Linked DNA regions of Homo sapiens: regions 2, 3 and 4 are each linked to region 1. The links come from fine-mapping of genetic effects on gene expression. A gene starts in region 1. Each other region holds a variant in brackets. All regions are shown on one strand. Distances are between the middles of the regions.

What was found. PIP is the estimated chance that this variant, and not a neighbour inherited with it, causes the effect. A credible set is the group of variants that fine-mapping cannot tell apart.
Region 2: its variant is the best candidate, but not a certain one, in a credible set for the expression of RHBDD3 in pancreas (GTEx, PIP 0.88).
Region 3: its variant is the best candidate, but not a certain one, in a credible set for the expression of RHBDD3 in sigmoid colon (GTEx, PIP 0.52).
Region 4: its variant is the best candidate, but not a certain one, in a credible set for the expression of RHBDD3 in testis (GTEx, PIP 0.72).

The regions. Positions count from the first base shown.
Region 1 is chr22:29,263,356-29,271,456 of GRCh38, reverse strand. RHBDD3 (rhomboid domain containing 3) reads left to right here and starts at 3,476. Exons shown (of 7, transcript NM_012265.3): 1 at 3,476-3,709; 2 at 3,880-4,031; 3 at 5,789-5,978; 4 at 7,239-7,622. The coding sequence starts at 5,831. EWSR1 (EWS RNA binding protein 1) reads right to left here and starts at 3,189. Exons shown (of 17, transcript NM_005243.4): 1 at 3,108-3,189. The coding sequence starts at 3,120. RefSeq lists enhancers at 1,592-1,641, 3,104-3,163, 3,274-3,333, 2,726-3,597 and a silencer at 2,844-2,933.
Region 2 is chr22:29,318,025-29,326,125 of GRCh38, reverse strand. It overlaps a transcript of RASL10A not described here. Among named protein-coding and RNA genes, the nearest start is that of RASL10A, 6.4 kb to the right of the region's middle. The variant A/G (reference allele first, on the strand shown) is at 4,789.
Region 3 is chr22:29,329,874-29,337,974 of GRCh38, reverse strand. AP1B1 (adaptor related protein complex 1 subunit beta 1) reads left to right here. Exons shown (of 23, transcript NM_001127.4): 17 at 3,565-3,710; 18 at 6,059-6,188; 19 at 6,442-6,526; 20 at 7,266-7,352; 21 at 7,443-7,597. It overlaps SNORD125 (small nucleolar RNA, C/D box 125), which reads left to right and starts at 4,717; the gene lies at 4,717-4,812. RefSeq lists an enhancer at 6,659-7,615. The variant G/A (reference allele first, on the strand shown) is at 3,962.
Region 4 is chr22:29,291,158-29,299,258 of GRCh38, reverse strand. It overlaps EWSR1 (EWS RNA binding protein 1), which reads right to left. Exons shown (of 17, transcript NM_005243.4): 9 at 7,660-7,697; 10 at 7,090-7,122; 11 at 6,653-6,771; 12 at 2,891-3,020; 13 at 1,310-1,432; 14 at 364-526; 15 at 1-25. Among named protein-coding and RNA genes, the nearest start is that of GAS2L1, 11 kb to the left of the region's middle. The variant A/G (reference allele first, on the strand shown) is at 4,903.

The DNA.
Region 1 (8,101 bases):
AATTTTCATCCCTTATCTAAGTAAACCTCCCTATAATTTTCCTTTTCCTATGAAATTTATAACATGCATCCAAAGGGACCAAAAACTGGTCCACTGAGGTGTCTACAAGTAGTAAAAACAAACGGAAAATAGTTTTCAGAGCGCTACTGCATTAAAGTTAGATAAATTTAGTTTTTTTTTAAAGGCAGTTAAAGTAATTATTTTTGAAAATTCTGCCCAATTCTTTCTTCTCCACAAGAACACATATCTTGTTCTGTCTGAAGACAGTACTGCCATTAGGACGGAAAAAAGGGGTCCTTTATTTTCCAATCAGAAAGTAGTCCCTCATCCAAAACCAACAATTGACAGCTCTTCATGGCATCCACTTCATGGAATCCAAAGCCAGCCTCACAATCCCTCGGCGGCCTGAGAGAGCTTTGCTGAATCCATCTCTTCACGTTGGCTTATCTGCCTACCTCTCTGTACTTTACTGGACTACTTTCTTTCCTTTGTACACACTCTTAACTCAAAACCCTGAATCACCAAGAGGAACAAATCAACTGCCCAAAGGCTAACCTATAATGAAAAAAATAATCTGTTCATGACAATCTTAAAGGCATTTTCAATAGCACTACAAGTCATACTCTCTCTGACATTAAAACTAAATGCAGATCATTTTTTCCATGTGGCATCTACAAAATAAACACAGCAATGAATCATTTAACATCAAATATTTTAACCCACGTTTTGTTGAGGTCTTTGCTTGAGAAGTGATTGTAAATCACTGTCATGTAAGTTCAACGTTTGCAAGACGACTTTTACGCAAGAGCAGTTATGTAAAACATCAAACTGGCAAAGCTGATATGGAACAACCAATGACCTCTTATCAGTGAGAAACCACAGGATTCGGCCCTATACTAACTGGTGGGCTATAGAAGGTAGCAAATTTGTTTCATGAACTTACATTTATCTTCCTAGAGCACACAAACATCACAGGCCCTCAAGCAAGCTATTAGGTTGATGCAAACGTAATTACTTTTGCACCAACCTAATACAATTACAAACTGGTCAGATTATTCAGCAACCGTGTTCGTTTTTAACCCCCAAAAGTGAGCCACTGACTTCACTAAAAATCACTTCACTGTGATTGAGCGCTGGGGGTTCTAGATTGCTGCGAGTCTGCATTCCAATTCTTTGTTGCACTGGATATATATGCTTTACGTACTTTTCTACATGAGATAACATACGAGGAGAGAAAACTTCTATTATTAACCCAAGGCAACGGTTTAACACTTTAGAGCAGTCACTATGGAAGCTGCTTCACACTACCTGAGTTGAGCTTCACAGTACCTGAGCTGAAGTCAGCATAGGACAAATTTGTGGAATGCTTATGCTGGAAGGTCAGAAGGGCTCAAAAGCTTAAGAGGTCTAGCCTAACTTCTGTATTTTACAGGAAAGGAAACTAAGGACCAGATTACTTATGTGACTCTCTGAAGGCCCCCCCAGCCAGGCCTAATGTGTTTACTTTGTGTCAACAGAAACCACAACTGTAATTCTAATACAGTACAGCACATGGTAGTTACTGGTGAACAAGGTTTGAACAAAGTTGACTGAAAAAAGGCACGTCCAGCCACGCAAAAATGTCAACGCACACGTTTTGCCTTTTCAGGCTTTTGCAGAGCAGAAGAGGGTGGATAGGGCACCTAGGAAACCACTTCCCACCGGGAGGTTAGCTGTGGTATTTCAGTCCTCTCTTCTACCGGCACTCTTTGGTATCCACTCTTTGGTATCCCGGCACGAACAGCCAACACTTACCTGTTTATTGACCACAGATGGGGAGAATTCTTAAACTGTCCTTAAGTTGCTGGATTCTGGACTCCAAAAACTCTGGAGTGCCCAGAACTTTTCCTGTCTTCCTTCTCATCTTCTCCCACTGTCTCTAAGGCCTGGAACCAGGTGGCCTGAGAATACCCCCGGGGCAAAAATGCTCCACCCTGCCAATTTTCGCGGGTTAGTGTACCCACAGATTGCGAACTGCAGGTGATGGCTAGGCGACACTCTTAAACGCTCCTTCCATCAAGGACCACTCTACTCCCATTTTGGAGTTCCCAACCGGGGCTTGCTTGCAAGTGCCTTTAAGATTGCTTCTACTGGCCTTTTTTCCCCTCTCCTCTGTCGACCTACGAAATCAACAGGCCTGCCGGCCTAACGCAGGCGAATAAACGTGCGAGGCCACTGCTGAAACATAATTCAAATGAAGGCTCGGCCTTTTGTTCCTCCTAGGTCAGAGAGACCAGAAATATCTTTCTGGTAGCGTTTCTCGTCTCTCGACCCAGGCTGGCCTTATTATACAACGGATGTCCCTCGGCGTTTGCAGAAAAAGGGCCCTGGGAAGCCACTTAATTGGTTTTGGGGGAGGGGAGGACGTGGATTAATAACGATAAAAATGGAGAAGCCCAAGAAAGCGGCAAACTGGGGGCCCTGGAGGAGGGAAGCACATTCTGTCTAAAGCCCAGGCGAGCAGAAGTTCGGCTTGGGGCTGGAAGCCACAGAGGGGGCAGCTCGGCAGCGCCAGACGCCCCAGCCGACTGGGTCTTAAGGATGACGGGGCTCCCGCTCATAGGCCGGCACCCCTCGGCCCACAAATCCACGGTATCTTTATTTGCTTTTTCCCCTGGTTTCTCAGGAAACCCTGAAAACGGGGAGGGAGGCCTCACAGGGACAGCAGCCTGCGGGCCCCCCGGCGGTTTCATAGTGACCGGCTTGAGGCCTGGCCAAATCCTCCCCTTCACGCAGGGCCTCGAAGGCCGCAGGCCCCGCCCACGTGGCGGGAGGCCCGGAGCTCAGGGCGCGAGGACCGCCACACAATGGAGGCCAAGGCGGGCCCCGCGCGCCCCCGCCGCAGCAAGCCCCCCGCGCGCCACGGGCGCCGGAAGATTCCAGAACCGGCCCGCCCGGTTGGGGGAGGGGAGAGGAATGCGGATCCCCGAGCTCGTCGGGCCGCGGCGGGTGCCTCAACCCCCTCTCGGCAACTCCACTCAGTCTTCCCAGCCAAGCCCAGAGACGAACGACCCCCAGTTTGGGCGTTCCGGCTACCGCCGGCGCGACCGCAGTTCCACCATACTCACCCGTGGACGCCATTTTCTCTCCTTCCTCCTCGTTCTCTCAACGTCCGTCTCCCTCTCGCTTTCCCTCTAGGCGCCGCACTGCGCAGGCGCAAATCTCGCAACCCCGGGCGCGACCATCGGGCCAGGCCACGGGGGTGGGGTCAGGAGGGATGAACCACCGCTTACTCGTTCTTCGCGTCCGCAACTCTTGTCCCAGTCCTCTCTAAAGAGCGCCCGACGTGACACTCGGGCCAAAATAGCATCTAAGGGGCCAGAGCGGGGGTGAGCGGGTCTCAGCGTGAAACCGGAGAGGCTCTCAGCACGAGACTAGGCTGTTTGGAATGGTTCCGTCCGCTGGCTCTAGGGACGGTCGCTGAAGAGTCGGCCCTGCAGGGAGACGGAGATCGGCGGGAGGGCTGGGGGAAGGGACCCGGACTAGAACAACTGCTGACTAATCCGCGGGCCGCGGGGAATGGGTGGCGCGCCAGCCGGTCGGCAGGGGTCACGCGGCCGGGTGTGCGCGGAATGGATTCAGGGTTCTCGGGTCGCGCCCGGGAGCTAGAGTCCTGACTCCCAGCCGGGGTCCCCGACCGGCCTTTCGGGGTTGCCGGGCGCGCTCTGCAGTGAGTACCCGGGACGCGTGGCCCGGGCCAGCGGGGAAGGGTCCCCAAGGCCGGTCGGCTGGGTGGGAGGCCTCGAACGCCGTGCCTGGCCCCGAGACCCTATCCCCGGTAACGGTCGAGGTGGAGCAGGCCCTTTAATCATCCCTCATCCGATATCCTTGTTTCTACAGAAGGGGAAACTGAGGCCCAAGGAAATTGAGTATCTCTGCAAAGTCACCAGCTGAGTTCGAACCAGACAGATCCTGGGACCCCCTACTCTATCCGCCACCGGAAGAATCTCCGTCCTTGTCTTTCCATTCTGCCCTCCCGGCTTCCCAGTAAGGTAGGCAGGGCCTGGTGGTGCACTGCCCCGTTTCATAGATTGAAGAAAGTGAGGTCCAGGGGGCTCAAGTCCCAGTTCCGAGTGTCCACGGGTAAGCCCTTCACCCTTGCTAAGGTGCCCAGAGCTGGGGAATGGTTGTGAGGTGTCGATGCAGGAGGAGGTTTACGGTGGGTGCCTTGGCCCCAAACCCTGCCTCCAGGCAAGGCTGACCCTGCCCACCTTCCTGGACCTCTAGCCCCAGCCCCCTAGGTGGATGCCCGGGTCCGCGAAGGGCAGGGTTCACCTTCAAATCCCTCGGCAGGACCAGGAGCCAAGCTAGTGTCCTTTTTTCAGTGAACATATATAAAGCACTGGCTGTGTGCTGTGAATACCCTGGGGAATGTGGGGTTGGATCAGAGGAGCCATGAGCTCAGACCACCTGCCTAGGGAGACAGACTGGCCAAGCTGTGCTCCTAAGGATAAGATCCATGATGTTAGGGGGCCAGAGGAGGGGAAGGGATATTTGAGCTGGGCTTCCAAGGGTGAAATAGGAGTTTGCCTGCTGGCAAAATGGAGGGAAGGACAATGCAGGCAGAGGAGCTTTCCACATTTTTCCTGCAGGAAACTGGTAGATGTGGAGAAGGCGCTTGGCAGGGGAGCAAATTAGGCAGCCTTCTTGTCTCTCTGGGATCCTGCTTCCTGCCCTGAATCAGCTCAGTGGGAGTCCTGGGACCGAGAGGCCTGACCAGGGGTGAAGACCTACAGGCCCTGGAGGACAGGCTGGATGCAAGAGAACAGCACGGGGGAGAAGGCCTTGCTTTGGTGGGCAGGGAAAGGCCATGTTTGAGGGCCAAAGCTGGGACCAGCTAGGCTGGAGCAGCCACCTCCATATTGAGGCCTTCTCGATGGGCCAGTTGGTGGCTACAGACGCCTGCCATGATTAGTGCGGATTGCTATGGTTTATGGAGGAAGAGTTGTGGGCCAGGGCCTGCCTTAGCCTATTCCTTTTTATTTCATCATACTCTGAGGAAAAGAATTTATGAATTTCCATTTTACAGATGAGAAAGGAGAGGCTCATCTGTAAAATGAGGCTCATCTGTAAAAAGATGAGGTTGGAAACTTGCCTCAGGACACAGAGCAGAAAGAGGTGGAGCGCATACTGTACCCTTCCTGTGGAAAGGGGAGCCAGGGCCAGAGGGGCTGTGCCAGTAAGGAAGCAGGAGGAGGCTTACAGTGGATGGGTTCACCCTCAAAGGGGATGTCTCAGTCGCAGGTCTCTGAGTATGGCTCAAGATGTGGGACTTCTGCCCATCTGCCCTACCCCTTACCCTGTCGGCTTGCCCATTGTCTGGCCCCACCCCAGGGTCAAGGGCAACTGAAACCATCTGGAGCATTAAGGCTGGGAACAGGGGAGGGGAGGAAGGAGGGAGGTAGTAGTCTGAGGGAAGGGGGAGGACAGAAGAGGGCTAGAGATGGCCCTGAATTCGCCCTGGGGGGTGAGGGCCTGAACCCCTCTTTTTGGGAGTTCAGGGCCTATCAGGACTCAGAAGTCTCTATGCCTGTCCCCTGCCAGTCCTTAAACAGAGGTGAGTGGAATGGTAAGATGGCTTATGAGCGCATGGGTTAGGGTCTGAGCTCCACTAAGGCCAAGCTGCTGGGCCTGCGTCTCCAGCCTGTTTCCACCTCTGTAAAATAGGGCTGTTGATAAGGTGCTTGAGAGGGTATTGGTGAGATAAAAGCTCCAGTAATAACTTGTTATTGTTTTCTTTTATCCCCAGCACACAGCCCCAGGACCACCCTTGACCGTCCTCAACCAAGCGATGCATGCCAGGGGCCCCCATGGCCAACTGTCCCCAGCACTGCCTCTGGCCTCCTCAGTCCTGATGCTGCTGATGAGCACCCTGTGGCTGGTGGGGGCCGGCCCCGGCCTGGTCCTGGCCCCGGAGCTGTTGCTGGACCCCTGGCAGGGTGAGGGCCAGCCACGTGGACCTTGGAGGAAGCAGGAGACTTGCTGTAGGGCCTGGGCCCACTTGGCAGGAGCAGCACAAGGCCTCCAGGGGTCAAACAGGGATGGGGCCCAGTGTCCCGGGAAAGCATGGCCTTAGACAGGAGCATGCCCAGCACATCCACAGCCAAGAAGGGAGGCAGAGGACTCCCTAGGGTGGGCTGGAACCTATGGGTAGGAGTGCTTTTCTCATGGTTTCCCTTTCTAGCAGCTTTTCCTTGAAATAAGAACTAAGGCCAGGTGGCTGACGCCTGTAATCCCAGCACTTTGGGAAGCTGAGGCAGGTGGATCACTTGAGGTCAGGAGTTCGAGACCAGCCTGGCCAACATGGTTAAACCCTGTCTCTACTAAAAATACAAAAATTGGCCGGGCGCAGTGGCTCACTCCTGTAATCCCAGCACTTTGGGAGGCCGAGGCGGGCGGATCACGAGGTCAGGAGATTGAGACCATCCTGGCTAACACGGTGAAACCCCGTCTCTACTAAAAATACAAAAAGATTAGCTGGGCGTAGTGGCGGGTGCCTGTAGTCCCAGCTACTCGAGAGGCTGAGGCAGGAGAATGGCGCGAACCTGGGAGGCGGAGCTTGCAGTGAGCCAAGATCGCGCCACTGCACTCCAGCCTGGGTGACAGAGTGAGACTCCATCTCAAAAAACAAAACAAAACAAAACAAAAAAACAGCTAAGACTTTCAACTAAGCATCAGGATGGGAGGAGGAGGTGTTGGGGTTTTGAGGAGTGACCTCAGCTGAGCACCTGTTTCCCAATAATAACTCCTCCAATTTGTATTTGAGGACCCCCAATGATGCTCAGAGAGGTTAAGTGATTTGACCAGGGTCACACAGCTTGAGGGAATGGGGTAGCTCCAGGATTGAAGCAGGCCATTTCATGCTCTCAGCCAGGTATGATTTAGTAAATACAGAAGCAGAGTACCTTCATGGTGTCTGGGACATAGTGAGTGCTCTGTAGCGGGTTGTCAGTGAAAAGACTGAGTGGCACGTCCAGTGTATTCTGTTTAATACCACAGAGGCGTAGCCACAGTGTTTGGAAGTCCTTGGTCCCTTCCACCAATGATTAAGTGCTGGCTGTGGGAAGACTGGCTCCTGGGGAGGGGAGGTGGGCTCAGCAGGTGGCCCTGGTGTAGCGTAACCTTCAACCTGGCACACCTGGGACAGCCTTGGATGTTGGGGCCACTAACCTGGCACATAAGCCCCTTCTCTCTCCCAGTGCACCGGCTGCTGACCCATGCCCTGGGCCACACGGCCCTGCCAGGCCTGCTCCTGAGCCTGCTGCTCCTGCCCACTGTGGGCTGGCAGCAGGAGTGCCACCTGGGCACGCTGAGATTCCTGCATGCCTCAGCCCTGCTCGCCCTGGCTTCTGGGCTGCTGGCAGTGCTGCTGGCAGGCCTTGGGCTGTCCAGTGCAGCCGGCAGCTGTGGATACATGCCTGTCCACCTGGCCATGCTGGCTGGGGAGGGACACCGCCCTAGACGGCCCCGTGGGGCACTGCCACCGTGGCTGTCGCCGTGGCTGCTGCTTGCCCTGACCCCACTGCTCAGCTCTGAGCCACCCTTCCTGCAGCTCCTTTGCGGCCTCCTTGCCGGCCTGGCCTGTATCCTTTGCCTGAGCCCAGGGCCCGTGGGGATGTGTGGGTTCTGTGGGTGGGTGCCTGGGAAGGAAGTGGCACAAAGGGGTGAAGGCCCAAGCAATACCAAGGAGCCGTGCACACACATTCCAGGAGCTTCTCTGAGTCTTCCTCTGGGACATGCTCTGGGCTGGGACCTGGGGTCTTATGGCCTGGTGGAGGTGCCAATTACAATGTAAAGGGCTACGTGGGCTCCCTGTAATATCAATGCCATTCTTCGCAGAAATAGAAACAATAACCCTAAAATTTATATGGAACCACAAAAGGCCCAGAATAGCCAAACCACCCTGAGCAAAAATTAAAAATTAAAAAAATTAAAAGCCTGACCGGGCGCAGTGGCTCACGCCTGTAACCCCAGCACTTTGGGAGGCCAGGCGGGCAGATCACTTGAGGTCTGGAGTTCAAGACCAGCCTGGCCAACATGGTGAAACCCCATCTGTACTAAA
Region 2 (8,101 bases), 55 kb before region 1:
GTCTCGCCTCTTGGAGGCCTTGGCATCCCGCAGCTTGGGGAACTTCCCAGACTTTTCTTGGGAAGATTCCCAAGTGTCTTGAACCTTCCCAGCCAATCAGGAAATCCAACAACAGCAACCAGTTATTTCTGGAGGGTCCAACACATACCCAAGGGCCGATGGGCTCCCCTGTGCACCAGACACTGCCAAGGCTGTTGCGGGACCTGGTTTTACGTTGTTTAATTTTCAGCTAGTGGTTTGCGTTCATTTTTGTGGAGCAAGTAATTCAGGACCATGGTGAGGTCAGCCAGCCAGAGAATAAAGTTCTCCCTCCCACCCCATCCTCAGTCCTTAATTTTCCTCCCTTGAAGGCAGACATTGTCACTAGATTTTGATTTTCCTCCAGGGATATTCTGCACATGTGTATAAGCAAATCCATATAGAGTTTTACTAAACGAATGATGGCCTACCTAGACACTGCTAGCACATCGCTTCTCTGACCTGACAGTCGTTTCTGGAGCTCTTTCCCTATCAGTAGGAGCAGACCGCCTCAGGCTTCCTTGTGTGAATGGGCCACCGTTAGCCAGTCCCTGCTGCGGGGCATTCAGGCTGTTTCTGCACCCTAAGCAATGCTGCAGCGAATACTTCCCACATACACCCTCCTGCCTGGGCAGGGATGTAGCTGTAGGATCTAGCCCCGGAACTGCTGAACCAGAGGGTATACCCAAGATGCATTTTCTATTTTAGTTCTTGTTTTGAAAAGGTAACACATTCACATGGCTCAAAATCTAAAGACAAGACAGATGTAAAAACCTACCCCTTTCCCTCATTTTCCTCCCCAAAGGAAACCACGTAATTATCCAAAGAGACTTGGCAGTGCCTAATTGGATTTTTTTCCCTTCTTGTGTGGAAATAGTAGCACGGAATACATGTTGGGCTTATATCGCAGAGGTTTTTCCATTATTAGCCCATTACAGAGAGTGTCCTCATGCCTTTTTTTTATTTTTTCATTTTTAAATTTTTATTTCTTTTTTGAGATGGAGTCTCACTCTGACGCCCAGGCTGGCGTTCAGTGGTATGATCTCAGCTCACTGCAACCTCTGCCTCCCAGGCTGGCGTTCAATGGTATGATCTCAGCTCACTGCAACCTCTGCCTCCCAGGCTCAAGTGTTCCTCCTGCCTTAGCCTCCCAAGTAGCTGGGATTACAGGCGCCCGCCACCACGCTTGGCTAATTTTTGTATTTTTAGTAGAGACAGATTTTCGCCATGTTGGCCAGGCTGGTCTTGAACTCCTGACCTCAGGTGATCTGCCCGCCTCTGCCTCCTAAAGTTCTGGGATTACAGACGTGAGCCACTGCACCCAGCTGCCTTTTTTTTTTTTTTTTTTTTTTTTTTTTTGAGACAGAGCCTTGCTCTGTCGCCCAGGCTGGAGTGCAGTGGTGTAATCTCAGCTCACTGCAACCTCCGCCTCCCAGACCCAAGTGATTCTCCTGCCTCAGCCTCCCAAGTAGCCGGGATTACAGGAGCACACCACCATACCCGGCTAATTATTTTTTGTATTTTTATTAGAGATGGGGTTTCACCATGTTGGCTAGGCTGGTCTTGAACTCCTGACCTCAGGTGATCCGCCCTCCTTGGCCTCCCAAATTGTTGGGATTACAGGCGTAAGCCATCGCACCTGGCCTTTTTTCTCTTCTTCTTTTCTTTCCCTTTTTTTTTTCTTTTTTTTTGTGACAGGGTCTCTGTTGCCCAGGCTGGAGTGCAGTGATGTGATTACCACTCACTGCAGTCTTAACCTCCCAGGCTCAAGTGATCCTCCCACCTCAGCCTCCTGAGTAGCTGGGACTACAAATGCGCACCACCACACCAAGTAAATTTTTGTATGTTTTTGTAGACGGTCTTGCCGTGTTGCCCAGGCTGGTCTCAAACTCCTGGGCTCAATAACCTGCCTGCCTCAGCTTCCCAAAATGCTAGGATTACAGGCATGAGCCATCGCGCCTGGCCCTTCCCATGTTTTCAATGTGCCTCTTTGCATGTGTTTTTGAGCCACTTGTATGTCCCTTTCTGTGAGCTGTCTTCACATTTTCTGCCATTTTTCTATCTGATTATTGATCCTTTTCTTACTGATTTACCATTATTCCTCCCTATTTTGTTACTGCTTTTTACTTTTCCATGCTGAAATTGGGCTTTTTAAGATGTAATTTTCTTTTAATTTTTTCTTTCTAGTACTTGTCTGCTCTTCATTTTTGCATTTCAATCCTGTTCCATCTGGGCTTTCTGTAGGAATGAGGTAGGGATCCAACTTCCCTTTTTCCCCAGATGGTTCCCCACTTGTCTCCACACCATTTACTGAATAATTCATCTTTTCCCCACAGATTTGAAATGCCATTTTTATCATATTCTAAATTTCCACATATATCTGGGTGTTTTTCTGGACTCTGTTCTATACAAGATAATTTGTCTATTCATGTTTTGATAACTTTTATTTTTATTTTTATTCATTTATTATTTTTGAGACAGGGTCTCACTCCTGTCACCCAGGCTGTTGTGCAGTGGTGTGATCTGAGCTCACTGCAACTTCCACCTCCCAGGCTCAAGCAATCCTCCTGCCTCAGTCTCCCAAATAGCTGGGGCTACAGGTGAGAGCTACCACACCTAATTTTTGTGGTTTTTGTAGAGATAGGGTTCCCCCACGTGGCCCAGGCTGGTCTCGAACTCCTGAACTCAAGTGATCCACCCGCGTTGGCCTCCCAAAGTGCTGGGATTACAGGCATGAGCCACCATGCCCAATCATTTTTTATTTTTTGAGTCAGGGTCTCACTCTGTCACCCAGGCTGGAGTGCAGTGGCATGATCATAGCTCACTGCAGCCTCGAACACCTGGGCTCAAGCGATCCTCCTGCCTCAGCCTCTCAAGTCATTGGGATTACAAGTGTGAGCCACAGCTCCCAGCCATGTTTTGATAACTTCTTGTACCCTCTTATTCCCATTTCATTCTATTTGAACTTTAGAACTAGTTTGTCCTTAAAAAAAAATTGATCGTATCATTTGGATCACATCAAATGTTTATTTATGGAGAATGGCCTTGTTATGATGTCAATAACAATATTGGATCTTTATATGTAAAGAACAGGAGTAGATGCTTTCCCATTGATTCAGGTTTTCTTTTATGTCTCTGTAATATTTTAAGTTTTCTTCATGTAAAAGTTCTTTTTTTTTTTTTTTTTTTTTTCAGACGGAGCCTCCCTTTGTTGCCAGGCTGGAGTGCAGTGGCACGATCTCAGCTCACTGCAACCTCCGACTCCCTGGTTCAAGTGATTCTCCTGCCTCAGCCTCCCAAGTAGCTGGGATTACAGGCATGCGCCACTGTGCCCAGCCAATTTTTGTATTTTTAGTAGAGACGGGGTTTCACCATATTGGCCAGGCTGGTCTCAAACACCTGACCTCAAGTGATCTGCCTGCCTCAGCCTCCCAAAGTGCTGGGATTACAGGCATGAGCCATCATGCCTGGCCGCCCATTTCGGTTTTTTATTCGTGTTTCACTAGTTGTGCGCTCGTGTCCTCTTTCTGTTCCAGAATCCCACATTCCACGTGGTACTCATGCCTCCTTATATCTGTGAGAGTTTCTCAGCTATTCTTGGTGTTTCATGACCTTGACTGTTTTCAAGGAGTCCTGCTTGGGTATTCTGTAGAAAGTCCCTCAGTTTGGGTTTGTTGGGTGTTTTTCTCATGGTCAGCCTGGGATTATGGTTTTTTAGAAAGAATACCACACAGGTGACTTTTCCTACGCATCATAATCAGGGTGACATGCTATCGACATTTCTTGTCACCTCACGTTTGCCTGGATCACCTAGCCAAGATAATGTTTGCATGTTTGCAGTTTTCTCTACCGTGAAGTTACTTTTCCCCTCTTTATTTTTTATTTTATTTATTTTTTTAAGACAGGGTCTCATTCTGTCCTCCAGGCTGGAGTGCAGAGGCATAAACACAGCTCACTGCAGCCTTGACTTCTGGAGCTCAGTTGATCCTCCCACCTCAGCCTCCCAAGTAGCTGGGACTACAGTCACACACCATCACACCTGGCTAATTTCATTCAATATTTTTTTTATTATTATTTTTAGTAGAGAGGAGGTCTCACTATGTTGCCCAGGCTGGTACTGAACTCCTGGGCTCAAGTGATTCACCAACCTTGGCCTCCCAGAGTGTTGGGATTACAGGCATGAGCCACCGTGCCCGGCCATCCTCCTTTATGTACTCTATTCTTTGGAAGCAAATAACTAAATGTAGCCTACACTTTGGAAAGCGGGGTGGGGGAGTAGCTACATGGAAGTGTTTGGAATTCTTCTTTAAGCAAGACTGGTTTCTTCTCAGATGTATTTTTTTCCCCTGGGAGCAAGCAAGCTGAATGATCACATTTATTCATTTATTTACTCAGTCATTTATATCAGTTTGGACTCATGGATATTTATTTTATAATCTGGGCTTAATCCCATACAACATTATTTACTTTGTTGCTTGAATTGTTGCAGGTTTGGCCACTGGGAGCTCCTTCTGGAAGGTTCCTATGTCCCTGTGACATACCACCATCCTCGTTTTTGAGCACTTCCCTCCTTTCTGCCACCATAAGTGGCTCCAGGATCATCTTGTACTGGTCCTGCGCCAACCCTAGAAACAGTCATCTCTCCAAGGAGCGTGGTTCCTTTCACTGGAAAACCATATTAGAAACCAGGAGCAGCCAGGCTGGGCGCGATGGCTCATGCCGGTAATCCCGGCCCTTTGGGAGGGCGAGGTGGGTGGATCACCTGAGGTC[A/G]GGAGTTCGAGACCAGCCTGACCAACAAGGTGAAACCCAGTCTCTATTAAAAATACAAAAATTAGCGGGGCGTGGTGGCAGGCGCCTTGTAGTCCCAGCTACTCAGGAGGCTGAGACAGGAGAATTGCTTCAACCTGGGAGGCCGAGGTTGTAGTGAGCCGAGATCACGCCTCTGCACTCCAGCCTGGGCAACAGAGCGAGACTCCATCTCAAAAAAGAAAAAAAGAAAAAACAGAAACCAAGAGCGGCCAGGCGTGGTGACTCACACCTGTAATCCCAGCACTTTGGGAGGCCCAGGCAGGCTGATTGCTGGAGCCCAGGAGTTTGAGACCAGCAAAACCCTGTTTCTACAAAGAAATGCAAAAATTTAGCCGGGTGTGGTGGCCTATGCCTGTGGTCCCAGCTACTCAGGGAGGCTAAAGTGGGAGGATTGCTTGAGCCCTGGAGGTCCAGGCTGCAGTGAGCCATGTTTGTGCCTGTGCATTCCAGCCTGGACAACAGAATGAGACCCTGTTTCAAAAATAAATAAATAATAAAAAGGAAAGAAACCAAGAGCTAGATGCTGGATGTATTCACTGCCACTGGGTGTCACTTCTTCCAGGCCCTCTGCTGACAGAGCTAGAAAATATATGTGTGCCTGTTTACCCACGTATACACACATATGCCTCCATTATGTTTTGTATTTGTAGCCATTTACATAGAAAAATGGAAGTTTTATATGTACCAATTTTGTCTCCCCAAACTTAACAAGTTGTCTTGTTTTTCTCTTTGTATCATCTCATTGCATCCCACAGCTCAGTGAAGTCAAGAAAATTAATATTTCTTTCACAGAGAAGGAAGCTGAGAAGCAGAGGTGTTTTTTTGTTTGTTCGTTTTTTGTTTTTTCGAGACAGGGTCTTGCTCTGTCACCCAGGCTGCTGTACAGTGGTGTGATCATGGCTTACTGTAGCCTCGACCTCCAGGGCTCAAGCAATCCTCCCACCTCAGCTTCCTGAGTAGCTGGGACCACAGGTGTGCACCACCACGCCTAGCTAATTTTTTTTTTTTTTTTTTGAGACAGAGTCTTGCTCTGTCGCCCAGGCTGGAGTGCAGTGGTGCGATCTTGGCTCACTGCAACCTCTGCCTCCCGGGTTCACGCCATTCTCCTGCCTCAGCCTCCCGAGTAACTGGGACTACAGGCGCCCACCACCATGCCCGACTAATTTTTTGTATTTTTTAGTAGAGACGTGGTTTCACCATGTTAGCCAGGATGATCTGTATCTCCTGACCTCGTGATCCACCTGCCTCAGCCTCCCGAAGTGCTGGGATTACAGCACCCAGCTAGTTTTTTAATTTTTTTTTTTTTTTTTTTTTGAGACGGAGTCTCGCTCTGTCACCCAGGCTGGAGTGCAGTGGCGCAATCTCGGCTCACTGCAACCTCTGCCTCCCGGGTTCAAGTGACTCTCCTGCCTCAGCCTCCAGAGTAGCTGGGACTACAGGCCCCCGCCACCATGCCTGGCTAATTTTTATATTTTTAATAGAGATGGGGTTTCACCATGTTGGCCAGGCTGGTCTCAAATGCCTGACCTCGTGATTCCCCTGCCTCGGCCTCCCAAAATGCTGGGATTACAGGCGTGAGCCACTGCACCCAGCCAATTTTTAAAATTTTTTCTAGAGTCGGGGTCTCACTGTGTTGCCCAGGCTGGTCTGGAACTCCTGGGCCCAAGCGATCCTCCCGCCTGGGCCTCCCCAAGGTGCTGGAATTACAGGCGTCAGCCACTGCACCCAGCCCAAGGTGCAGAGAATTTAAGTAACTTGCACAGATGACACAGCCCTGGAAGGAGGTTTCAAACCCAAGAAAAGAAACTTTCAGAGGCTTGGAAGCCCAGCCCTGCCCAGCCTCCTTGTGTCCTGATGGCTGGAAGACCAGCCCAGCCCTCAAGAGGCTGCCTGGCTGTGATTAGTGGGAGTCATCATGAGGATGTCCAAGGACCCACTACACCCCAAGCATGTGAGCTGTGGAGGATCCCTCCATTCGTGGGTCCAGGAGGTGAGTTACTGGTGGTGTGGAGCCATGATTCGTGGCCAGGACAGACCATAATTAGTGGTGACTGGTGTGGCCTAGCAAAGGAGTCCAGAACTAACACCCCCTGGGAGCTGGATGCAGTCTTGGGTGCCTGACTTCAGGGATGGGCTGGAATCAGGCCCAGTTGGGAAGAAACACATGGGTGAAGGCCAGGTAGCTGGTGTTAGGAGCCTGTGGGCAATGAACTGGGGAAAGCAGAATTCCCCACCTGGTGCCTGCCCCTGCCCAGCCCTCCCCACTATCTGTGGCTTGATCCTTCAGGGCTCAGTATAAGCCCCTCAACTCCCGCTGGACTGGTGCTTACCCTAGGCCTCCTCATCTCCCCAGGCCTGAACCAGCCCAGAGCTCCTGTCTTCACCCGTCCCTGCCTAGCTGCATGTCTGTCTCTTTCTCCCTGCCACAGAGGGTAGGCAGGACCACCTTGGCCACTGTGTGCCTAGTGCCAGTCCCCTCTGCTGAAGGAGAAGATGCATGCATAGTTGGCAGGTGGTCCCTGGAGCCCTGGATAGGGGCATTCAAGGAGTGCCCAGGAGGCCCCTGGGGAATAGGGATTGGAGGGGGGCAGCAGGCAGGAGGCCTACAGCCTTTCCTTGGGGAAGGAATGAGGGGACTGATGAGAGAACCCTGAAATCCACATCCCAGGCAGACAGGCAGCTTCAGCCCCCCAGCCTGCTGGTCTTTAGGAAGCCTGGCACAGGGCTGCACACTCCCATTAGAGCTCATTTCAGCCCCTGTGGATGGGGGGCTCCACGGGACCTAGAGGCCTCCCCAAGTCCCTCCCGACAGGGGGCTGAGTGGTCACTGGGGGCTGAGCTTCAGTTGAGTACTTCCTGAGAACCCTCTGGGTCCAGATGAAGCCAGGCTTCTCAGCCAGGCTCTGGAGCCCAAGGGCCTGGGTTCCGGCCCCTGTGCTGCCATTTTCCTGCTAGGCAACTGTGGCCCAATCATGGCGTCCCAGGGAGCCTTAGTGAGCATGAGGCTGTGGGTCAGGCTTGGCACATCGCAGGCCCTTGATAAATGGGCACTGCTGCTAGGAACGCTGCTGTGAGAGTCTCCTAGGGAACATGGCACGTTTGCAGGGCTTCATGGGAGCCTCAGGACGTTCCCAGTCCACAGTGCCCCTTCCCCTCGCCATCCAAAAACACATACTGGGAGCCAGAGACGCCTCACACACAGCTCTGTTTGCAGTGTCGGAAGGAGAAGCAAGGAAAGTTTTTCAGAGAAAGAATACCCAGGGGTGGGCGGGAG
Region 3 (8,101 bases), 67 kb before region 1:
ATCCTGGCACAGCCGGAGCCATTGGAAAGTTTTAAGCAAAGAGATGAACCAGTCTGATTTGCACTTGAGAAAGATGGCTGCGTCTGCAGGGAAGGGGTGGGGCAGAAGCACCGGCCCCGGGGGATTCCGTGGCAGGGAGGAGGAGTGCTGGGGCAGCTGGACCACGGGGGCTCTTGTGGGTGGAAACAGCGGCCAGACTTGAGAGCTCCCTGGGAGGGAGGAGCCGGGGCTGAGGGAAGGAGAGTTGAGTTTGGGATGTGAGGACATGCGGGCCTGGCACTGAGGAGAGCTCAGTGTGGGCCATGTTGTCAGTGTCAAGGAAGCTGCCAGAGGGGACCAACCAGGCCTGATCCCCTCATCACACTCAGATCAGAAGTTGTGTTTGCCAGAGCTCCCCTCTCTCTTCTGAGGTCCCCACCCCAAAGCAGGATACAGTTGGCGGTCAGGGGCAGTGACAGCTCTGTCATGACTAGGGAGCCATGAGCCAGCACCTCCCCACCCCCTGAGCTGGCTTTCCCCACCATATGCCAGCTGCACCTGCAGTGGTGGTGACTGGAGCCCCTGGCAGGGTCTGGGCACTGAGAGGCCCACAGCAGACAGCAACTCGGACACTAGTAGCCGCACACTTCCTTGTAGGGACAGCACAGCATTCCACAGCCACCGCCAGCACGTCCTCCTCCCAGCAGCCCTTTGTGGCTCTTCCTCCTATTTCGTGGTTGAGAAATCCTAGTGCTTTTGCCTAAGGTCACATAGCTGGTGACAGAGTCTGGAAGTGAAAGCAAGTGACACTAAAGCCTCTGCTCCAGACCCCTATATGATGGTCCCCACAGAGCGTGAGAACCACCTGTGCACCTGCCTTCATGCGTGGGGTGTCAGGGCCAGCAGGGCCACGGGAACGTAGAATCGCGGCATAACGTACAGCATGTGCAGTTGACTTACTACCTGGATTAGCTGCACCAAGGCATGAGGCCAACTCGTACTCACCAGAAGCCCAATATCACAGGCATACAAAGCAGGACTAAGGGACAGAGAACAGCAAAGACTCCTGTAACCCTGTGGGTGCCAGCCCTTGCCAGGCACTGCAGAGCTGCCAGGAAAAATAAGCCTGGAGCTGGCCTTTGGCAAGCTGGCACTAGGCTTGTGTGTTCATCTTTTTTTTTTTTTTTTTTTGAGACAGAGTTTTGCTCTTGTCACACAGGCTGGAGTGCAATGGTGCGATCTCAGCTCACTGCAACCTGTGTCTCCGGGGTTCAAGCGATTCTTCTGCCTCAGCCTCCCGAAGTAGCTGGGATTACAGGCACCTGCCACCATGCCTAGCTAATTATTTGTATTTTTAGTAAAGACAGGATTTCACTATGTTGGCCAGGCTAGTCTTGAACTCGTGACCTCAGATGATCCACCTGCCTCGGCCTCCCAAAGTGCTGGAATTACAGGTGTGAGCCACTGCGCCCAGCCATGTGTTTGTCTTACCAGTGTTACCCCTGCTTTGTCTTCGTGAAGGGTCAGATGAGTGTATCCAACAGAGCATGCTGGAAAGGAGAGGGGAGGGGATCTCCTAGTCAAGAGTCATCAGGGCAGGTTGCCTGGAGGAGGAGTTTTTCTGCCACGGGCAGGACTTTCCCCACTGCCTTGGTCATGGGAGGGTTCTAGGGTGTGGGTGCACTATCCCTTCAGAATCACTCAGTAGGTATCCACATCTTCCTAACAGCGCTGTGGCCACCTGGAATTGTTCATTCCTCATGCATTTCCACACCCTGCTTGTGGGGTTACAGACATTGGCCAACCATGTTGGTCTAAGGAATGAGGCTGTCTGTGCATAAGAACTTTTGGGTTCCTCACCATTTGAGTCTGCTGGTGGTGACAGTTCATTGGTTCATCCAGTAAAGATTGAAGATGGTTCTGTTGGGACCTGTGTGAGATGCCATGAACCCATAGTGACCAAGAGCAGTGCGGTCTGCATCCCCAGCCTTGGGCGACTGAGAGAGGGCCAGGGGAAAGGAGGCCTGATTGGGGGGCCCCTGGAGAGTTGTCCATGAGAGAGCCATGCCCCCCGGTCAGGTTCAGCCAGCTTCTGCGTACTCTCTCAGCCGCCGTGGCACAGCCAAGAACAAAAGCAGGGTGCTTTCTGTCCTCACAGATCTGTCCGGGGGCGTGCTCAGGGTTAACCGAGCAGGATGGGGGTGGGGAGGCGCTTTCAAAGCAGAGGGAACAGCCAGTGTGAGGTCCCAGGGGCAGGGGCAAGCCAAGCCTGGGGAGCAGATGGGCACCAGGCTGTGGAGGCCAAGGCCCGTGGAGGCCATTGCAGGATTGGAAGGAGTTTCTCAGGGTGCCATGATCAGATTTGCATTTCACAAGATAACATCAGCTGCTGTGGAAAGGGGGAGAGGGTGGAAATGGGGTGCCACCTGGCAGCTGCTGTCTTACCTGGGAAATCTGGTGGCAGCTTAGATGCTGGTGGCACCTCTGGAGATGGAGAGAAATGGAGGCCCTGGAGGCAGATGTAAGAGGTGGCCTTCACAGGACTTGGGTTGCGTGACTGTCTCAAGGGGGTTAGGGTGGGGTGGGGGGCTGGTGCCTGATGTTTCTGTGGTTTCTGGCCTGGCAACCTGAGAGACAGTGGGACCTTTGTTGGCACTGAGTGCGCTGCGGAAGCTGTCGGTGGGGTCTGAGCCTTTTCACCTCAAGGGGCCTGTGAGCCGTCCACAGGAGAGTAACCGCCTGAGAGGCGTTTGTGAGCCCACAGGATGCCGCTGGTGGATGTCTTCCATGGCAGGGCTCTAACTCATCCTGTTTGCTCAGCAAACACTCCCCAAACACTGGTTTCACACCAGGCTCTGAGCCAAGGTGGTAAAGACAGAAAAACAGAGCCTTTCCCTCAGCGAGCTCTCTGAGTACAGGAGAGACAGACACAAGCTCATATTTATCTGCCATAACATCACTGGGGCGAGGGAACCTGGGGGCAGGGTTCCAGGAGGAGGTGGTTCTTGAGCTGAGACTTGAATGACAAGGGCAGCCAAGCAGCAGAAGGCCTGCCAGGCGAGGGGTCCTCTTAGGTACTGTCCTTGGTCAGACCAGTTTCTACAGCCAAAGGCCAGCCCTGCCTCCTGCAAGGGAGGACAGGCGGTGATGGCCAGGAAGGCCCAGATTCTGGCCGAGGCCCAGGATGCCATTGGGCACTGAGCTCTGTCCTTAGCTCATGGCATCCCTCAGCCCTACTTCCCAAGTGATCCCTCCATTGCCAGCTCATGGCCTCCCTCAGCCCTACTTCCCAAGTGATCCCTCCATTGCCCTCTGAGGACTCAACGTCAGCCCTGGAGCGCTGAAGTGCCTCCCCACCCTGAGCTGCTCCGAGAGGCAGCCTGTCATGGCGGTGGCCCTAGATGGTACATGGGATTGTTCTGTTCCCAGTACACACCTGTTCATCCCCTAGCAGTAAAGGTGGGGGTGCTGGATCTGGGAGGCCCCTGCAGGAGAGAGAGAGAAAAAGCACCCTCAGGTGGGCTGTTGAGTTTGGGCTGCAGGAAGAGGCACCTACCCGCCCCCTCCGCACCCTCTTCCCTGCAGGTCTGGCTCCCAGCCATGAAGGCTAAGGGGCTGGAGATCTCAGGCACCTTCACCCGCCAGGTGGGCTCCATCTCCATGGACCTGCAGCTGACCAACAAGGCCTTGCAGGTCATGACCGACTTTGCCATCCAGTTCAACCGCAACAGGTGAGAGCTCCCTGAGGCCAGCGCACCTCTCAAGAGGAGGCCTGTGAGAGAACCCACTCGGAGTCTGTTCTGGGGACTGCAGGCAGGGGTGGGGGCTGTAGAGGGGAGGGCAGTGCCCCTTTTCTGAAGGATGTTCCCCACCACCGCTCAGGCCAAAACTCTCTGAAGCACTGGGTTTTGTTTGTTTGTTTTTTCTTTTGGAGACAGAGTCTCACTCTGTCACACAGGCTGGAGTGCAGCAGCGCCATCTC[G/A]GCTCACTGCGGCCTCCACCTCCTGGGTTCAAGCAATTCTTCCGCCTCAGCCTCCCGAGTAACTGGGACTACAGGTGCACACCACCACGCCTGGCTAATTTTTTGTATTTTTAGTAGAGATGGGGTTTCACCATCTTGCCCAGGCTGGTCTCGAACTCCTGAGCTCAGGCAATCCGCCCACCTCGGCCTCCCAAAGTGCTGGGATTATAGGTGTGAGTGACCGTGCTCAGCCAAGCAGTGGGATTTTTACCCCCAAGTGGCCTCTTCATATGGACTCCAAAGTACCAGGCAGAGTGGGAAAGGACGTCTTTCTTTTTAGTTTTTATTTTTTTTGAGATGGCCTCAGTGTATTGCCCAGGTTGGTCTTGAACCCTTGGGCTCAAGCAATCCTCCTGCCTCAGCCTCCTGGGTCTCTGGGACTACAGGTGCACGCCACCACACCTGGCCCCCCTTATTTTTGCCTCCACAGTCCAAAGGAGTGTTTTACAGACAGAAACGCCCTGCTCCAGCTGAGAAGCCCACCTCTGGCAAACACCCCACATAGGAGGGGCCCATCTTAGGGACCAGCTCTCAGAAGGCTGGTGGGGAGTGGGCCTGCCTACCAGCCTCCCCATTGTGGCAGAGGATTAAAGTGTCAGATGGGGCCTCTGGGAGCGGTAGCTGCTTCAGGCCCCTCCCCACCGGGTCCGCTACACTGGGTGTCAGTGGGAAGGTTGCGTCATGGACCCAGCCAGTGAGGCTAGGACTCCCTGGGGACCCCTGGCAGCCCCTCCTGATGATTCTTCTTCCTGAGCACGCTCATGATGAGCAAACTGAGCCTCTAAGAAGTTGACTGAAGGGGCTGCTTCCCCAAGGAAGCCTGGGGGCCAGTAGGTCCTGACCCTTGGGCAGACCGGGGCTAGGGGTGGCTCTACCACTTACCCTCATGTGACCCTGGAGGCCACAGAAGTGCACCAGGCTCCGAGAGGTGGTTCCAATGGTTGCCTCTAGCAAACTTACTGTGTGCTGAATGCTTCCTGGGCACCCAGGCCCTGTGGCACCGGCTTTGGGAGTATTGTCTCACTTGAGCCACTTGATGGCCCAGCAAAGTCACTGCCATCACCCCTTTTTAGTAGGTAATGACACCTGGGCTCCTTGGACAGCTCACATAGCGAGCAGTAGTGGAGCTCCCAGGAAAGCCTAGTGTGCTGAGCCACCAAGCGGACCTGGGGTTCCCCAAATGGTCTCCCTCTGTGTCCCAGGCAGGCTGATGGCTTCTTGGGCAGAGCACAGGCTGGGGTCAGACAGCCCAAACTCTGATTCTCAGCAGCGCCCTCACCCTATGGGGTCTGACACAGGCCTGCTCCTCCCTGAGACGGTGTCCTCATCTAGAGGATAGGAAGAGGTGTACCTGGCTCTGTTTTTATGAGGCTAGGAGCAGGTATAATATTGAATCCGCAGCCCAGGTATACCGAGCCCTCGGTTTGTGCCCCCAGTCCCATGCCCTGTGACTTACCTTCCAAGAGCCTGCTGCTGGCGTGTCTCACACCCATGAGGATCTTCCTAATTTGTCACTGTGCTGCTTTGCAGAGAAGCAGAGCTTTCCTGAATCTCTCTGTGGCCACTGTGTGACCTGGCAAGTTCTGGCCAAGAGAGTAAAATCTAGCGTCTTGCTTGGGATGGTCAGATCCCTTCTGGGAGTTGAGGATTGGCAGCAGAGACTTGGGTGGTCCCAGAGTTTTCAAGGTAGAAGCAGCTTATACTCCAGGCCCCTGGCATTAGACAGAGCTCCTTGAGGGCAGGACAGGGCAAGGCCTGCCTACCTGGGCCCACCAGTGCCTGGCCCAGAGGAGAGGAACAGAGCTGGGCTTCAGGCCTGCAGCCAGGCTGGGGCAGAGCAGAGCAATTGGCCTGGGGCTCTTTCTTTCTGTCCAGATGGCCATCTGGGGGAGGGGACCCACAGCCCATCCTTCTGTCCAGGGTCCAGAACATGGGAAGGCTGGCACGGTGAGAGGCTCCCTGCCAACCACAGCCCCAGCTCCCGAGTCGGAGGAGCTCACCTGTCCCGCATCAGCACCTACTCCCCCTGCCATCCCTGTGGGGCTTCTCTCTCCCCAGCTTTGGCCTGGCCCCCGCCGCCCCCCTCCAGGTCCACGCGCCACTCAGCCCCAACCAGACAGTGGAGATCTCCCTGCCTCTCAGCACGGTGGGCTCGGTCATGAAGATGGAGCCTCTGAACAACCTCCAGGTGGGTTCCGGGCAGGGCAGGCACCCCAGTCCTTACTCACCTACCAGCCGGGCCCCACTGGGGTCAGTAGAAGGTCGTGTCTGCGGAGTCATGCTCTTAGCTGCAGATGTGTTGGGGAGGCCCAGGTTGGGGAACGAAGGGGTGTGTTTACCAGGGAAGGCCCTGGGAGAGAATCTGCTCAGTGACACTCTTCCTGGGGCCTCAGAGGTGGCGTCAAGCCCCAGAGACTGACTGGGGACCCCCTTGTGCCTAGGTGGCCGTGAAGAACAACATCGATGTCTTCTACTTCAGCACCTTGTACCCACTGCACATCCTCTTTGTGGAGGACGGGAAGATGGGTGAGTCATGAGGGAGCCCGCTGGGGTGCCTGAAATGGGGCTGTGGCTTGGGAACCTGGCCAAGGTGGTGCCTTTACCAAGGTCCAGATGGACTGCCTTGCCCGTAAATGGAGTCGGGGAGTTGCTGCTTCCCTGCAGGGCCTGGAGTGAGGGGTATACCCAGGACCCCCCCGGCCTTAGTGGCCAGTTCTGGTCTGGCAGGTGGGCTGTGCCACATGGAACTCACCCCACTCCCAGGCTCTCCTGCTCGCTCCTCAGCCTTGTCCCATGGGCTGCAGCGAGCCCAGGTCATGCCCCACACCTGGTAACCCCCTCCTCTGTGCCCTTTCTGGAACCCCCAAGAAGGGTGTTGATCACAGCACACAGACGGCCTGCACCCTGCCCCTGGCTGCGTGGAGCCCTTGGCCCATGTCATCTCTTGCTTGCCACAGAAGGCCTGCATGGGAGGCTGTGACTAACGAGCAGGCTGCTCACCGAGGAGGAGGAAGGCGTGTGGGGGTGGGGAGGGGAGATCCAAGGCCTGGAGGCAGGAAGCCAGGGTCATTTGGAAGCGGCACTGGGGCCTCCCTCACAGAGCGGAGGGTGTGCTTAGGGAAGCAGGAGGGCTGTGCGGCAGCTAGTGCCTGTTGTCAGCTTTCACGTGGCACAGTAAAGGCCAGACCCATTTCCTGCTGAGCTACAGAGGGCCCACAGGTTTATGAGGGGCTCGCCTCTCATCCCCACCCTGCTCACCCCGCAGACCGGCAGATGTTCCTGGCCACATGGAAGGATATTCCCAATGAGAATGAGGCCCAGTTCCAGATCAGAGACTGCCCCCTCAATGCAGGTGAGGACTCCGAGCCCCCGACCCCAGCCCCTCGCCTGTACCCAGGCCCCCGCGCTGACTGGGGCCTCTCACGGCCATGTGACCCCACAGAGGCTGCGAGCAGCAAGCTGCAGAGCAGCAACATCTTCACTGTCGCCAAGAGGAACGTGGAGGGCCAGGACATGCTCTACCAGTCCCTGAAGCTGACCAACGGCATCTGGGTGCTGGCGGAGCTGCGGATCCAGCCGGGCAACCCCAGCTGCACGGTGAGAGCCCCGGCACCCGCCCTGCAGCCTTGGAGCCTCCCCTTCGTCCCATGCCAGGGGGTGGCCCTGGTGGAGGACGCGGTCCAAGCGTCCCTTCAAGCCTGGCTTGAACTAGAATCAGTTTGGTCCCTGAGAAGGACCTTTCTAGAAAGCTTCCAAATCAACCCCGTCAGGTTACCCAGATAAGACACCAATTGGGTCTCGGAACAGTGAGTTGGACTAGAAGATTGTGTAAAATTGGGCCCTGTAAGGTGGTGCAGTTGGTTTGGCACCCCTGACTGGGAAGTGACATTGCTGGGCACAGGCCCTGGCCCTGTCCTGTGAGTGCCTGCATGTCCAGCTGGGAGGACAGTGGTTCCCAGGAGCCTGAACCTCCCAGCCTTTGAGGTAGACCTGTTAGAGAATGGCTTCCCTGGGGCACACAGTTGTCCTGGAGGCCTGCACCGCTGTTCCAGGGCCCCGGACAGCCCCAAACTCTGCTTCTCCCCCACACCCCTGAGTCTC
Region 4 (8,101 bases), 28 kb before region 1:
GGCGAAGTTCTGGTTTCCACAACCCCTGCATACAATTACATCACAGCAGAAATCACCAATTGAACTAAGGAAGATAAACAAGGAAAGGTGGTGTGTGAACAGGTACACACTCACTATCAAGAGGATCTATGTACACCCATGCTTTAGGGCACAGCCTCAGGCAGCATTGCACCCACAGGACAGGTCAAATCAATCTTCAGAAGGCTCTGAAGCGTCCAGTGAATGGCTGACTAGTGTCCCTAACCAGCCATCAGGGTCATCATTCTGTTCCTCTAGACAGAGCAATCCACTCTAGAGTGGGGATGGGGTGAGGGAAGGGTGGCTTCACTCGTAGGGTATCAATTTGCCAAGACAAGTACATACGGATTGGGACACTGCCAGTCTCCAGCTCGGTGCTGGACGTTTCCTCCTCCAGAGGGGTTCCCTCGGGAACCCCGGGGTCCTCTTGGAGGGAAGCCTCCTCTATCTCCTCCACGGCCTCCCATGCGACCCATGGGTCCCCCAGGACCTCCTGGGCCTCCTGGACCTACAACAAGAACAACAAGAAACAGCAAATCATTTCTCTGTAGCACCAAATTTGCTATAGGAAATAAAAATCACTAAGTAAACCCACAGATACTACTGCTGTCATTTCCCCATCACCTGTCCCGTGTTTCCGTGTGGCTCAGGCCATCAGCCCCCTTCCCTGTGAGGAGCGTGTTCCACGTGCTCTACAGAAACAGAGCTCCCACAATTTTTTTTTTTTTTTTTTGGAGACGGAGTCTCACACTGTTGCCCAGGCTGGAGTGCAGTGGCACGATCTTTGCTCACTGCAACCTCCACCCCCCCAGATTCAAACAATTCTCCTGCCTCAGCCTCCCGAGTAGCTGGGATTACAGGCATGCACCACCATACCCGGCTAATTTTTGTATTTTTAGTAGAGAGGGAGTTTCACCACGTTGGCCAGGCTGGTCTTAAACTCCTGACCTCAGGTGATCCGCCCACCTCAGCCTCCCAAAGTGCTGGGATTACAGGCGTGAGCCACTGCACCTGGCTGAACTCCCACAATTCTGTAAGGAATAGGCATGTCTATACAGACACAACCAAAGCTGAATAAATGGCAGTCTGGAGTTGACAGGCAGAGTGGCTTCCAGCCTCCCATGTTCTTCTCTTCCTTTTATTCCCAACAAACATTCATTGTTAGCTCTCGATAGTCTAGTATTGACTCTACACACAATTTTATATTTCTTCACTCTAATAATCAAGTTTCTCAAGGGTATGAAGTGTACTGAAAACCTTTTAATGCAACATAGGAGCTCAGAAAAAGTACCTCCACGGAGTGGTGGTGGCATGCCTCTGCCCTCACGGGGTGGCAGACCACCCCGCATACTGTTCATTGGAGGCTTCTTCCGAGCAAGGGAGACTTTAAGTTTGCTCCCTTGAAAATCTTTCCCTGGAACAAGACAACAGAACATCAATTACTCCCCTGTACTCCCTGTTCACCAACTCCACATCATCATCAAATGACCACTCCCAGATGCATTAGGTCTGCCTGTAATCTTCTCTAAGATCTTTAATGACAAGGCCAGAAAAAGGCTTTTTTTGAGATGGGAGTCTCACTCTGTTGCCCGGGCTGGAGTGCAGTGGCACAGCTCACTGCAGTTTCAATCTCACTTGCTCAAGCAATCCTCCCAAGTAGCTGGGACTACAGGCACGCATCACCATGCCCGACTAATTTTACAAAATTGTTTGTAGAGGCAGTGTCTCACTAGGTTGCCCAGGCTGCTAGTGAACTCCTTGGTTCAAACAATCCTCCTGCCTTGGCCTCCTGAAGTGGTAGGATTATAGGCAAGAGCCACTGTGCCTGGCCAGAAAAAGGCCATACTTAAATACACTTAAAAACCTTCCTACAGCCTGACCAACATGGTGAAACCCCATCTCTACTAAAAAATACAAAAGTTAGGCTCAGCGTGGTGACATGCGCCTGTAGTCCAGCAGCTACTCGAGTGGCTGACGCACAAGATTGGCTTGAACCTGGGAGGTGGAGGTTGCAGTAAGCTGAGATGGCTTGTGTCACTGCACTCCAGCCTGGGTGACAAAGTGAGACCATCTCAAAAAAAACAACACAAGCAAAAAACACTGTCTACCATAAGGAGGAAAATAAGCTGGTGGGAAGCTGACTGCATGACCAAGAAAACAGAACCAGGACTTGTTATTTGACACTTTCTTTGAGACAGAGTCTTGCTCCGTTGCCCAGGTTGGAGTGCAGTGGTGCAATCTCAGCTCACTGGAGCTTCAAACTCTCCGGGCTCAAGTGATCCTCCCACCTCAGCCTCCTGAGTGGCTGGTACTATAGGTATAGGAGTGTGCCACAACACCTGGCTAATTTTTGTATTTTTTTTGTAGAGACAGGGTTTTGCCATGTTCCCCAGGCTGGTCTCAAGCCCCTGGATTCAAGCAATGCACCGATGTTGGCCTCCCAAAGTGCTGGGATTACAGGTGCAAGCCACTGGACATGGCCAAGTCATTCAATGCTTTCAAGTTGGTTTTGTCTGAAGTGAAATCCCACCATTAATGTCAAGGCCTCATTTAAATATATATATTTATCTATATGCAAATGTACACTGGCTAAGATGTTCTTTTGAAGGGTTTTCTGTACCTTCTGATAATCTGTGCTTAGGAAGTGTTTGCCACTTTAAGCAAGGTTGATTTGTAATACTAATGCCTCAAAATAAAGGGATCTCCAAATCCAGGGTCAATGGCTGGGTGCTACTACTACTGCAGGGAGACCGGCCATCTACCTCCCCCAGGAAGAGATGGAAGGTCTTCTTGCTCCTATGGTTCACAAGTTTCTCCCTCATGCCATATTCTATAGCCAGGGAGATTAAGAATGCCAGTGAGTACATCTCACCATCAAACCATTCCACGGCAGCCTTGGCAGTGGGTGGGTCTTCATAGGACACTGTGGCATCGCCTTTGGGCTTTCCTGTTTCCTTGTCCAGGTAGATGTGGATCATGGGTTGCCCAGTTCTCTTGTTCATCTAGACAAAGAATAGCATAGTTAGGCATGACTAGAATATACTAATTTGGGAGAAAAAAGTCCAGGCAAAATCCAGGAAAAGTACCAATTTCTCACATGTAGTAAGTCACTAAATGTCACCGTTTCTCCGCTTTTAAGTTTTTCAGAATTCTAAGTTATTTTCTCCTCTATCCCTGCTTTATCATAAAAACCAAAGTAGACCAAAGTGTGGAAGTGAACAGGATAGGCCCCACTCCTGCCTTAGCCATCTTCTGATGCTGGTTTGCCTGCCCTGGCATTTTCTATGCCCAGACAGGTATCCACTGAGCACAGCCACCTCGTAGGGGTAGTCAGACTTTGATACCACCACATAAGACATGACTGGCATAAAGAAAATTATCCTTAAACCGTGAAGGACAGTGTACAGGCTGTGAGTGAACTACAGGGATTCTTGGTTAGTCTAACACAGCCACTACTTCCTCCAGTTAGAACAGATGACTAGTCTTTCAGCTGAATATCAGATGTGGTTGACTTGAATTCAGGAGCTACCTTGTATAAGAATATCTTCACGTGTACTTTTTTGCATTATATATGCACACGATCAGTTTAGTCTGTAATTGTTTACATATATCCAGTAACACAAGAGCAATCTATTTATAGGACTTAAAAAAGATTACAACAGGATATATATATTGATACCTCTGACTTAAAAAAAGGAACGTGATACCTAAAAACTGAAAAGAAAATATGGCAAAACTGTGGTATGAATAATGTGGAAATGCATTTTTTTCTTTTTTGTGAGACAGAGTCTCACTCTGTTGTCCAGGCTGGTCTCAAACTCCTGGGCTCAAGCAATCCTTGGGATCCTCCTGCCTTGGCCTCCCAAAGTGCTGGGATTACACATGTGAGCCACTGTATCCAGCTTGGAAATCTATTTTAACATCTTTATTTCCAAAATTTTGATGGTAAATACTACTTTCTTAACCAGGATAAACTCCACATTCCTCAATAAACTACATGTTATATACATATTAAAAAGCAGTCTTTTTAATATGCTCAAGCCTGTACTCCCAGCTACTCAAGAGGCTTGAGGCTTGAACCCAGGAGGCGGAGGTTGCAGTGAGCTGAAATTGTGCCACTGCACTCCAGTCTGGGCAACAGAGCAAGACTCCATCTCAAAACAAAAAAGCAAACAAGGAGTCTTGCACAGGGTAGAATGTGACAGTAGACACTAAAAGCATTTTACTTTTGAGGTGTGTGTGATATCTGTGCACACACACACCTACAAGCAGGGAGAAATCACCTTATATAAGATTTACCAAAATCAACTGTATTTCCTTTTTTTTTTTGAGATGGAGTCTTGCTCTGTCGCCAGGCTGGAGTGCAGTGGCGCCATCTCAGCTCACTGCAACCTCTGCATCCTGGGATCAACTGATTCTCCTGCCTCAGACTCCCAAGTAGCTCAACTACAGGCGCGTGTCACCACACCCGGCTAATTTCTGTATTTTTAGTAGATACGGGGTTTCACCACGTTGGCCAGGATGGTCTCGATCTCTTGACTTCGTGATCCACCCACCTCGGCCTCCCATAGTGCCGGGATTACAGGCATGAGCCACCACGCCCGCCCAAAATCAACTGTATTTTTTTTTTTTTTTTGAGGCGGAGTCTCACTCAGTCACCCAGGCTGGAATGCAGTGGCGCCATCTCAGCTCACTGCAAGCTCCGCCTCCCAGGTTCATGCCATTCTCCCGCCTCAGCCTCCGAGTAGCTGGGACTACAGGTGCCCGCCACCAAGCCTGGCTAATTTTTTGTATTTATAGTAGAGACGGGGTTTCATCGTGTTAGCCAGGATGGTCTCGATCTCCTGACCTCGTGATCCACCCGCCTCGGCCTCCCAAAGTGCT[A/G]GGATTACAGGCGTGAGCTACCGCGCCCGGCCAAATCAACTGTATTTCTATACACCAGTAATAACCAGAAAAGTGTCATTTAACGAAGACCCTTAACCACAGCAACTTGAAAATAAACGAAACCTAGAAGTAAAACTAGTAAAATTTGCAAGACCTTTAAGGAAATCGATAGTCTTTACTGAAGATCTAAATAGGCTGGGTGTGGTGGCTCACACCTGTAATCACAGCACTTTGGGAGGCCTAGGTGGGTGGATCACGTGAGGTCAGAAGTTCAAGACCAGCCTGACCAACCTGGTGAAATCCCATCTCTACTTACAAAAATTAGCCAGGGGTGCTGGCAGGCGCCTGTAATTCCAGCTACTCGGGAGGCTGAGGCAAGGAGACCCGGGAGGCAGAGGTTACAGTAAACCAAGACTGCGCCACTGCAATCCAGCCGGGTGAAGGAGTGAGACTCTGTCTCAAAGTAAAATAAAATAACAAATAGAGACAGGCCAGGCACAGTGGCTCATGTCTGCAATCACAAAACTTTGGGAGTTGAGGCGGCAGATCACCTGAGGTCAGGAGTTCAAGACCAGCCTGACCAACATGGTTTCACCAAACCCCATCTCTACTAAAAATACAAAAATTAGCTGGGTGTGGTGGCGGGCACCTGTAATCCTAGCTACTCAGGAGGCTGAGGCAGGACAATCGCTTGAACCCAGGAGCCAGAGGCTGCAGTGAGCCGAGATCGTGCCACTGCACTCCAGCCTGGTGACACAGCAAGACTGTCTCAGTAAATAAATAAGCAAATAAATATACAAATAAATGGAGAAATAAAATCTTCATGGGGAAAAAAAGATCACTCAGTATCATAAAAATGTAAATTCTCCTGAAATTACTTCATAGATTTAGTAAATATTCAATTGGGGTTTTAAGGTTTTGAGGTTTATGGGGTTCATAAACTAACTCTAATACAGAAGAGCAAGAACTGAAAAACAGTCAAAATCCCTGAAGAAAAAATCTGCGTTACTAGCTATGAAGAATTAGCATAAAGACACAATAATTTGAGGTTGGGTGTAGTGGCTCATGCTTGTAATCCCAGCAATTTGGGAGGCTGAGGTAGGTGGCCACTTGAGGTGGCCAGGAGTTAGAGACCAGCCCGGCCAACAGGCAAAAATCCATCTCCACTAAAAATATAAAAATTAGTTGGGTGTGGTGGCATGTGCCTATAAGTCCAGCTACCTCAAGAGGCTGTGGTGGGAGAATCACTTGAACCTGGGAGGCTGAGATTGAGCAACACTCTGTCCCTAGGGGTGGAGGAGGGAAGGCCGGGCGTAGGGGATCACACCTGTAATCCCAGCACTTTGGGAGGCGCCAAGGTGGGCAGATCACCTGAGGTCAGGAGTTTGAGACCCGCCTGCCCAACACGGTGAAACCCCATCTTTACTAAAAAGACACAATTAGCTGGTGGCGCACACCTGTAATCCCAGCTACTTGGGAGGCTGAGGCAGGAGATTCGCTTGAACAGAGGTTGCAGTGAGCCAAGACTTGCGCCATTGCACTCCAGCCTGGGCACCAAGAAGGAAACTCCGTCTCAAAAAAAAAAAAAAAAAAAGGCTAATCTTTTTTAAAAAGGAACAAACCATAAGATACCTAGAAAGAAGTCAGGCAAAGGCAACCTTAGAAAACAACTCTCAACATCAATTCAATCTCTTTAAAATGCTCTGTGGTTTAAAGTTCTGCCAGATGACCTGGTTATGCTTTTACTGACCTTAACAACCCCACACTGCTTAAAGAAGTCTGCCAGATCATCTAGAGTCACACTGTCATTTAATCCTTGTACATAAATTGCACTGTTGTCAGAGTCTTCATCTGGATCTACAGGTGGGCCTTTCAGAGACAACAAGACAGGAGAATTATTATCATGTATCTATAGGGGTTTCTTAACTACCTGATCACTACTGCCCAAGGATATTCATCATAAATCTAAGAAAACTACCAAGCATACTAAGAAGAATGCTATCAAACTTTTGGTTTACTTCACTTAAGGCAATTATGAGTAGATGCTCACATAGGATTTCCCAAACTGTCCTTGACAGCAAGAATATCACACTGGTCTATAAGGCTGCTGAACTCTACGCATGCATTTACCTCTGTACCATTAATTTACAAAGCACGATATGAAGCACAACTAGAATTCAAAATTACCTAGATCAAGATCTGGTCCTTCATCCATGGGTCCTGCCAACCAGGAAAGATCATATAAAATATTATTAGTGCACGTCTTGCAAGCTACAAACCTTACAAACACACATAGCTATCTACTATACCACCATTTGATGGGGATTCATTAAACTCAAAATGACCCGCACTGCTAAAATGGAGCAGTGTCTCTTTAACATTTGTGAAAGGTTTGCTAGGGTTTGCTTTTTTCCTTTGCTGGTTTGCTTCTAAACCATTAACCAAATACACTCTCAATGCTTATGTGCCAAATCAGTGTTAAATTTAAGTCAAAATTTTTCCTCTAAATAAACCAAATTTAAAAATTTATTCTCCCCCATATTACAGAAGCAGTTACTCAATACTTCAAGTTACCCTTTGTTTTGTAACCATAGGTTAACCTTATTAACCCCTAAGACAATGCCGGCAGTACCCATTAGTCTCTTTTGTATAGATCATTTTTAAACCACTTATGAAACTAATAAAAAAATTATAGTTTTCTAAAAACTGACTGCATTTTTTTTTAAACACTATCTATGGTAATACTCAAAAACTTACCACCAGGCTTATTGAAGCCACCTCGCTCTCCAGCGCTGCTGGGGGGATAAACGAAGAAATGAAGGCCTTTCCCTTTAAAAGCCAGTACCGCTCTGAGCCTTGGGGGGGCTCGTGGGGAAGAAGGGCACTGGCTAAACACATCTCCAAACAATGCATCTCTCTCATCTTGTCACTATGCCTTTCTTCAGGGCAGCTTGCTCAAATTTCCTCAATATACAACCTTGCTTGTCTGATTGTACACACCAGTGTGGTTGGTTCCTTTCATTTCGGGGGCTGGTATTAATAGTGCAATACTTGGCAAATTAGCAAGAAAAAATAGATCCCAAACACCCACCCCGTCAGGTGAAAAACCAGAAGAGCTTGGTATAGAGGGGAGGAGCAAGTGGGGGTTAACTGCTGTGATAAACCTTTCCATGTTCATAAAGGTGCACCCTCAACCTCT